Homo sapiens: one gene and its partner. The protein of the gene in region 2 interacts with the protein of the main gene of each other region in a biochemical or structural test. Each region holds a gene or a part of one and is shown on either strand. Other genes may lie near its edges. The genes, in order: RPAP2 and RPRD1B.

Region 1 (3,917 bases), on a different chromosome or scaffold from region 2:
TTTCTCAAAAAGGCTGTACCAATTTTCATTCCCACTAGTTGCAAAAAGATTTCCTAACATTCGCAATTTTGTGGGCTGTGAAAACAAAACTCAGTGTGTTTTTATTTGCTATTTCTCTGATTACTGATAATATTTAGCATCTTTTCATATGTTTATTAGCCATTCAAGTTCCTTGTGTAAATTTTTCTATTAGTTTGTCTGTCTTTTTCTTATAGATCATATATTCTAGATATGATTCTATGGTCAGTTAACATTCTGCTTTGTGGCTTCTCTTTTCATTTTTTTTTTGAAACTTCTGATGAACAAAAGTTTTACATTTTAATATAGAAATGTTTATCAGTTTCTCCTCTTTGGCCTATAATTTTCCATCTTATTTTATGAAGTCTCTCTACCCCAAGTTTATATCTTCCCATATTGTCTTTTTTTTTTTTTTTTTTTGAGACGGAGCCTCACTCTGTTGCCCCGGCTGGAATGCAGTGGTGCGATCTCGGCTCACTGCAAGCTCCGCCTCCCGGGTTCACGCCATTCTCCTGCCTCAGCCTCCCGAGTAGCTGGGACTACAGGCGCCCGCCATCACGTTTGGCTAATTTTTTTGTATTTTTAGTAGAGATGGGATTTCACTGTGTTAGCCAGGATGGTCTCGATTTCCTGACCTCGTGATCTGCCCGCCTCGGCCTCCCAAAGTGCTGGGATTACAGGCTTGAGCCAGGGCGCCCGGTCTATTGTCTTTTTTTTGAAGACAGTGTCTTGCTCTGTTGCCCAGGCTGGAGTGCAGTGGCATGATCTCGGCTCACTGTAACCTCTGCCTCCCAGGTTCATGCGATGCATGTGCCTCAGCTTTCTGAGTAGCTGGGACTACAGGTGCGTACCACCACCTTTGGCTGATTTTTGTACTTTTTGTAGAGACAGGGTTTTGCCGTTGCCCAGGCTGGCCTCCAACTCCTTGAGCTCAGGTAATCCGCCCCCCTTGGCCTCCCAAAGTGCTAGGATTACAGGTGTGAGCCACCACGACCAGCATCTCCCATAGTGTCTTCTACCTTTTACATTTATGTCTTTAATCTACCTAAAATTGATCTATGTATAGAGACTGAGATAGGCATCAATTTTAATTTTTTCCATTTGCATAACTAATTGTGCCAGTATAATTTATTGAAAAATCCATCCTTTCTCTACTGATCTACAATACTCCCGCTGTCATATATCAAGTGTCTACATATGTGGTTAGTCTGCTGCTGACTCTCTATTCTGTTCCATGATTTATTTGCCCAGATTTGTGCCAATATGCACTTTTAAATGTTCAAGTCTTAATTGAAGCTTAAGCAAAAAAATTTTTAATACCTTGATTGAAATATTTACAAATAAAATCAAACTTTTAACATCACTATTTTCTAACCAGTAAGATTTTAAAGTTTCTTTTAGAATCCTATTTAATATCATTAAAAATTAATTGCCATGCCTTGTTAGGATAGTGGTTAGTAAAGAAAAAAAATTAATTGCCACAATGAAAGCCTTTAAACTCACCTTTCTTTCAGTAATATCATAGACTTTATTGGTTTTGGTAGAAATTTTATATTTCTGTTTTGGTACCTAAAGAAAAGAAAGTACAGCTTACAAAAGAATCCAAATAATAAACATGAACGTTATGTTACAAGATTAAGTCATCTACATATCATATCATTGGCCAATCCATGCCTTTAGTTCATGACCTTAGGTTTTATTTCTTATTCTTACAACAAAGTATTTTGCTAAATGAAAATAATAAAAGCCTATATTTTAAAAAAAATGAGTTACTTACAATTCCCAGCTTCTTCTGACATAAAGGATAACCACAGAGTTTGACAATAGAACGTTCATCCACGACATCACTGTAGTGAGCAGGTGTAATGAACCTCCCCTAAAATGAAATGAGAGGGTTATTTCCTCCTAGTTTAATAGAAAAGTTCATTTATCAGCTCTCTAAGCCTCATCAATCTTATCTGAAAACACAGGGATAGCAATAGTACCTTCCTCATAAGTTAGAGGTTAGAATTAGAGGAGAAAATAAAGCAAAATCACTTAGAGAAGTGCTCAACATATAGTGAGCATTCAAAAAAAAAGTTATTATTAAAAAAATTTCTGCCACAGTAGTCTCTGCATCTTTGTAGATTATATAGTTAAATGAAATAATTCTGAGGCATGAGGAAGAAGTGATGCTATAGCTATACACAAGCTAAATGACAACAGTATCTTTTATTTTTGAAAAAGTATTATTTAAAAAATTAACTAAATCACAAAATAATAAAATATAATTTTACCTATTTTTTAAAGCATAATCTTTAAAAACAAAGTATTTCAAAAGTGTCATTGTTACTGCAGAACACAGTTTGTGCAAAATTTTCCTACTTCTGAAAAATCTGTACAGAGTGGTGAGGTGATGGTTATAAGCTAACATCAAATATTTTCCTTTGACATCTTCATGATCAAATAATTTTGATTCTTGTTCATAACTTTGAGATCTTTTAACAAGTTTTTCTGTTTTCACAGAGACAGAAATACTTTTTATTGAGAGTGATGTAAGTTTTATGTTTCAAATGAAGCATATTTGCCTTTGTCTTTTCTGGTGTCATCAAATATGCAGATTCTGATGCAGTTACCTGTGTCAATAAAAATATGAATTGTCATGTTCATATTCCTGTTTAGAAAAAGATCTATCAACTACACTAAGAAGTGTTTTTGTAATAGAAGCTTTGAGTTTTAATTTGCCCTCTTAAGGATTACAAAAATATAAAGAGAAATTTCCATTCAAAATTTTAATGTAGTAAAGCTGTTTCAAAATTTTTTTATTCTCAAATTTTTATTTAGACAGGGTCTCGCTGTGTTGTCCAGACTGGTCTCAAACTCCTGGGCTCAAGCGATCCTACCGCCTTGGCTTCCCAAAGTGCTGGGATTACAGGTATGAGCCATCGTGCCTGGCCAAAAAAAAATTAATGCGGGCCGAGAGCAGTGGCTCATGCCTGTAATCCCAGCACTTTGGGAGGCCGACGCGGGCGGATCACGAGGTTAGGAAATCGAGACCATCCTGGCTAACACAGTGAAATCCCATCTCTACTAAAAATACAAAAAAATTAGCCGGGCGTAATGGTGGGCGCCCAGTCCCAGCTACTCGGGAGGCTGAGGCAGGAGAATGGCGTGAACACGGGAGGCGGAGCTTGCAGTGAGCAGAGATCCCGCCACTGCACTCCAGCCTGGGCGACAGAGTGAGGCTCCGTCTCAAAAAAAAAAAAAAAAAAAAAAAAAAAAATTTAATGCGGAATTTAATTCTCCCGTTTTATGTTGAGTCATAAATGAGCTGTATTTCAGGTTTTTGAAATAAGAAAATTGATGAAATTACATTGACAAAAATAATATTCTTCTGTTACTTAAAATAACACAACACAGAATATAGAAAACTGGAATTGCAATCATTAGAACAAATTGAAGAAAATCAAGTGATATTAGCAGACTGGTTAAAAGAACTATGACTAAGGGTAAAATATATTTGCTTTTTCTTTTTTTTTTTTTCTCCCCCATCCTCATTTTTCTTTTTTCCCATTTATTATTTATATACTTATTTTGAGACAGAGTCTCACTCTTGTTGCCCAGACTGGAGTGCAGTGGTGTGATCTCAGCTCACTGCAACGTCTGCCTCCTGAGTTCAAGTGATTCTCATGCCTCAGCCTCCTGAGCAGCTGGGATTACAGGCATGAGCCACACCTGGCTAATTTTGTATTTTTAGTAGAAACGAGGTTTCACCATGTTGGCCAGGCTGGTCTCGAACTCCTGACCTCAAGTGATCCGCCTGCCTTAGCCTCCCAAAGTGCTGGGATTACATGAGCCATTGTGCCTGGCCTCTTTTGCTTTTTAATTGACAATAATAATTGTATATATTTGTGGGGTAG
Region 2 (3,917 bases):
GCTTCAAATGCTCAAAAGGCAAAACTTTCTATCAAAAAAGGAACGCAGAGTGCCATATTGGCAACAGTGAATTAAATGGTATTCAATTTAGGGCTTGAGATTTGGAAGTAGAAAGAAATAACACTTGGTATTTGCATTCTCTTTTTGTTGGTTCTCAAAAGTTTCAAAATGCTTTATAAAATAAAACAGACACCTGAGCCTCACAATTTCTTTGCGGACTCCACCTAGATATGGCAAGAAAAAAAACACTGAAGTTATACTTCCTATGTTAAAGCTTGGAGATTAACCTAAATTTATCATGTTTTGCAAACAAGCACTATAGAAGCTCAAAATACCCCACTGCTACTCCCTGTGACCAGGGCCTCCTCATTCCATAACTGAGTCACTGCAGTAAGTCCCTGGTTAGGCCTCCTGACCCCTAGGGCTCCTAAAATGCCACCAGACTTCTCTCCCAAAAGCCCAGCTTTCATGAAACCACTCCCTTGAGAAAGTGAGGCACGGCACCCCACTAGCTCCATGATCTGGTCCTTCAGAGCAGAGTTCAAGGTCTTACAAAATCAGCCCCTGCCTCACAACCTCCTAACCCTCTTTGTCTGTGTGGACCATTTTTTCAGGATTCCCCGCAAGCCTGGAGGGGGTCTCTCTCTTCTCCTAGCCCTAGCAAAGCCTGGCCTCCACTCCTCTGCTCCTTGGACTATCTGGACTCCACCTCTCTAGGAAAATCCTTGCTCTGCATCCAGGAGACGACTCCGCATCTCCTCCTGCTCCAGAGCTCTCCCTCACACAGGGTGTGTACCTGAGCCCCTAGCAAGCTGCTCTATGCTCTCTCCATACATGTGAGACTTCTATGTTCCTCTAGAATATGAATCCCCTAATGATAGGAATGGGGCATATTTTTTTTCTTTCCTCAGCTCCCGGAAAAAGGTACTCTTGATAAATCTGCCAAGATATATAGAAAACAACCCTAGGCCATGTGAAGTCTGGGGCTGTTGGCCCCCTTGGGGCTTAGTTTTTGTCCTCTCAGTGTCTCTGCAAGGGTAAGTAGGTCCCTGACGCTGGGCCCCTGCTGACTTAGAAAGCCCTTCCTGCAGGAATGTAACAAGAAGCCCTGGGCTGAGATGCAGAGACCTAGGCTTGGTCCTGGTTCTGCCTCTAACCTGCTGTGTGACCGTGGATGTGTTCCCTTCTTCCATATCTGAAAGTGAGGGAACTGGACCATAACACTTCTTTTCAAGTTCTAAATTCCTTGATACCAGATCCCTGATGCACACCTGAAGAGGCAGAAAGTAGAAGCTAGAGAATGTCTGGGAAGAATAATGAGGCAGGAAAAAGGTCAAATGGAGAATACTTAGTTCAAGTTGTAAAGACAAAAGTCCAAGCAAGGAGTGAGAGGAGGGAACCAGGCATATCCTCTCCCCATTACTGCAGGCAATCAGTCTCCCACCCGCAATGAGAGCTCCTCACACAGTCTACAAAGGAAGAGAAAAGGGTAGAGAGTGAGCTCTCCTAGCAGCCCATTTCTTTTCTTTGTAAACTTACCACAACTAAAATTAAACAATGACTTACGTAAATGATTAGCAATGACTCCCACATTTAACTAGTAAGCTCCTGGAGGCCAGGACCAGACCCATCTGCTTCCCCCAGCATCCACCAGGCTCCGCAGTGTCCAGCAAACAGTAGGCACCCAGCACATGTGCCGAATGAATGAGCCATATCTAAAACATAACATCAGGTAAAAGCATACCACATGAAGTAGCTCCTGAGACTCAGACTTTGGTTAACAGTCACCTTTCACGTTCCTGAAGTTGAAAACTATTTTCAAATTTGAGGATCTGAACCCCCTTTCTCCCACAAGTACTTTTCTTCTTTGGCTGTTTATACTTCAAGGGAAATTAATATAAAGGATGAAGGCAACTAATTCTCTATTTCTGGACACGGATTCATCTAATAAACTTCTCCTGAATGGAAGGTATAAAAAGGGTAAAATAACAAAACAACTACAGAACACGGACTTCCTGCCCCCTGCCTGAATTCTCTGACCAAAGCTGACAAATCAAAGCCACCTCGACTCAGAACCAACCACTCTTGGCAACTAGGGAGCCCTTCAGTTGAAGGAGTCCCTCAAGAACAATTTGAAAACCACCAAGTCTCTAGAAGCTGAGCTGGGATCAGAATCCAAGACTCCTTACTCTTGGGTTATCATCAGACCAACGTGGCAAGTTCATTGAAGTTAAAATGGAAGGCACTTTGCTCTAATTAGACACCACCTTAAGTTCAACTAACTCTCTCCTAGGCAATTTCTTAAAAATCCCAGTTGTGGCCAGGCGCAGTGGCTCATGCCTATAATCCCAGCACTTTGGGAGGCCGAGGCAGGCAGATCACCTGAGGTCAGGAGTTCAAGACCAGCCTGGGCAACATGGTGCAACTCCATCTCTACTAAGAAATACAAAAGTTAGCTGGGCAGGGTGGTGGGTGCCTGTTAATCGCAGCTACTCAGGGGGCTGAGGCAGGAGAATTGCTTGAACCCGGCGGGGCAGAGGTTGTGGTGAGCTGAGATTGTGTCACTGCACTCCAGCCTGGGCAACAGAGTGAAATTCCGTGTCAAAAAAATAAACAAAAAAACAAAAAAAACCCCAAAAAACCAAACAACAGTTGTTTCTGTTTGGAAGGGGGTATAGGGTGGGGTACGGGGGATTCCATCATGCTTAGGCTATTATATTCTGGACATTACCGAAGAAACTCATTTAACTAAAAAGAAATGTGTTCCACTCTTCAGGCCACTCTGGAAGTGGACGGATCCTGCCCAGAGCTCTTGATGCCACTGGGTGACTCTTCTCGCAGGGACGCCTATTGTAAGAGCAGGCGTCAGAGGAAGGAATCACTAGAGAAAGAAAGAGGGAGAGTGAGACTGTCACTGAAAAGGATTAATAAACATCAAGGCTGGCCTGGGCATGGTGGCTCACGCCTTTAATCCCAATGCTTTCAGAGGCTGAGGCAGACAGACTGCTTGAGGCCAGGAGTTCGAGACCAGCCTGGGAAATAGAGACCCTGTCTCCACAAAAAAATGAAAAACACAAAACACTGAGGCTGGTAAAAAGAAAAGATCTGTAGGCTAAGAGGTTTAAATGTATTGGCAAGGATAACCGGGTATATACTCTGAAAAACCAAATACAGGCAGCAATTGCCTTTAAAACTGTTAAAACATGTACCTGCTTAACTGGGACAGTCAAATGACCCAGATTAATTTCCTGAAGAGAGGCAAGCAGGCTCGAATTCATGGCAAGCTCTGATTAGGTTAAACTGAAGCTATAGTAATTTTTATAGTCCACTAAATAGACTCAAGTAGTAACTACTGTGATTTCCCACTCCCCATCCCTGCTTTTAAAAACAGATTCAGGCTTTCCAAACAAAGTCATCTGTAAACCTTGCCATGGACCAACAGAAGAAATTAACAGTGACTCCAGGCTAGACAAGGTGGTTCACGCCTGTAATCCCAACACTTTGGGAGGCTGAGGCAGGTGGATCACTTGTGCCCGAACATGGCAAAACCCCATCTACAAAAAATGCAAAATTAGCCAAGCGTGGTGGCACATGCCTATAGTTCCAGCTACTCAGGAGGCTGAGGTGGGAAGATTGCTTGAGCCCAGGAGGTGGAGACTGCAGTGAGCCAAGATCACACCACTGCACTCCAGCCTGGGTGAGAGTGAGACCCTGTCTCAAAAAAAAAAAAAAAAAAAAGACTGACTCCAAACAAAACTCCCCCAAATACAACTCCAGCCTTCACCTGCCTCCAAATTCTCTGGTTCTTAAGCTCTCTCAGTTGGGTCTTGCAGACCCTCACTAGCTGACTTTCCAGGTTATTCTCTTTGGGTCTGGAGAGATGAAGGAGAAAGGTCTCAGGAAAATCCAAGAATCTC

Evidence for each region.
Region 1: the proteins of RPRD1B (region 2) and RPAP2 interact in a biophysical measurement, tested with the Homo sapiens proteins (one study listed by IntAct).

The regions. Positions count from the first base shown.
Region 1 is NC_000001.11:92,301,954-92,305,870, reverse strand, and holds part of RPAP2 (putative RNA polymerase II subunit B1 CTD phosphatase RPAP2), read right to left. Parts: intron 1,895-3,917; coding exon 1,796-1,894; intron 1,588-1,795; coding exon 1,522-1,587; intron 1-1,521.
Region 2 is NC_000020.11:38,085,661-38,089,577, reverse strand, and holds part of RPRD1B (regulation of nuclear pre-mRNA domain-containing protein 1B), read right to left. Parts: intron 2,882-3,917; exon of another isoform or gene 2,732-2,881; intron 1,716-2,731; exon of another isoform or gene 1,567-1,715; intron 1,470-1,566; exon of another isoform or gene 1,158-1,469; intron 1-1,157. UniProt on the Homo sapiens protein: Interacts with phosphorylated C-terminal heptapeptide repeat domain (CTD) of the largest RNA polymerase II subunit POLR2A, and participates in dephosphorylation of the CTD by RPAP2. Transcriptional regulator which enhances expression of CCND1.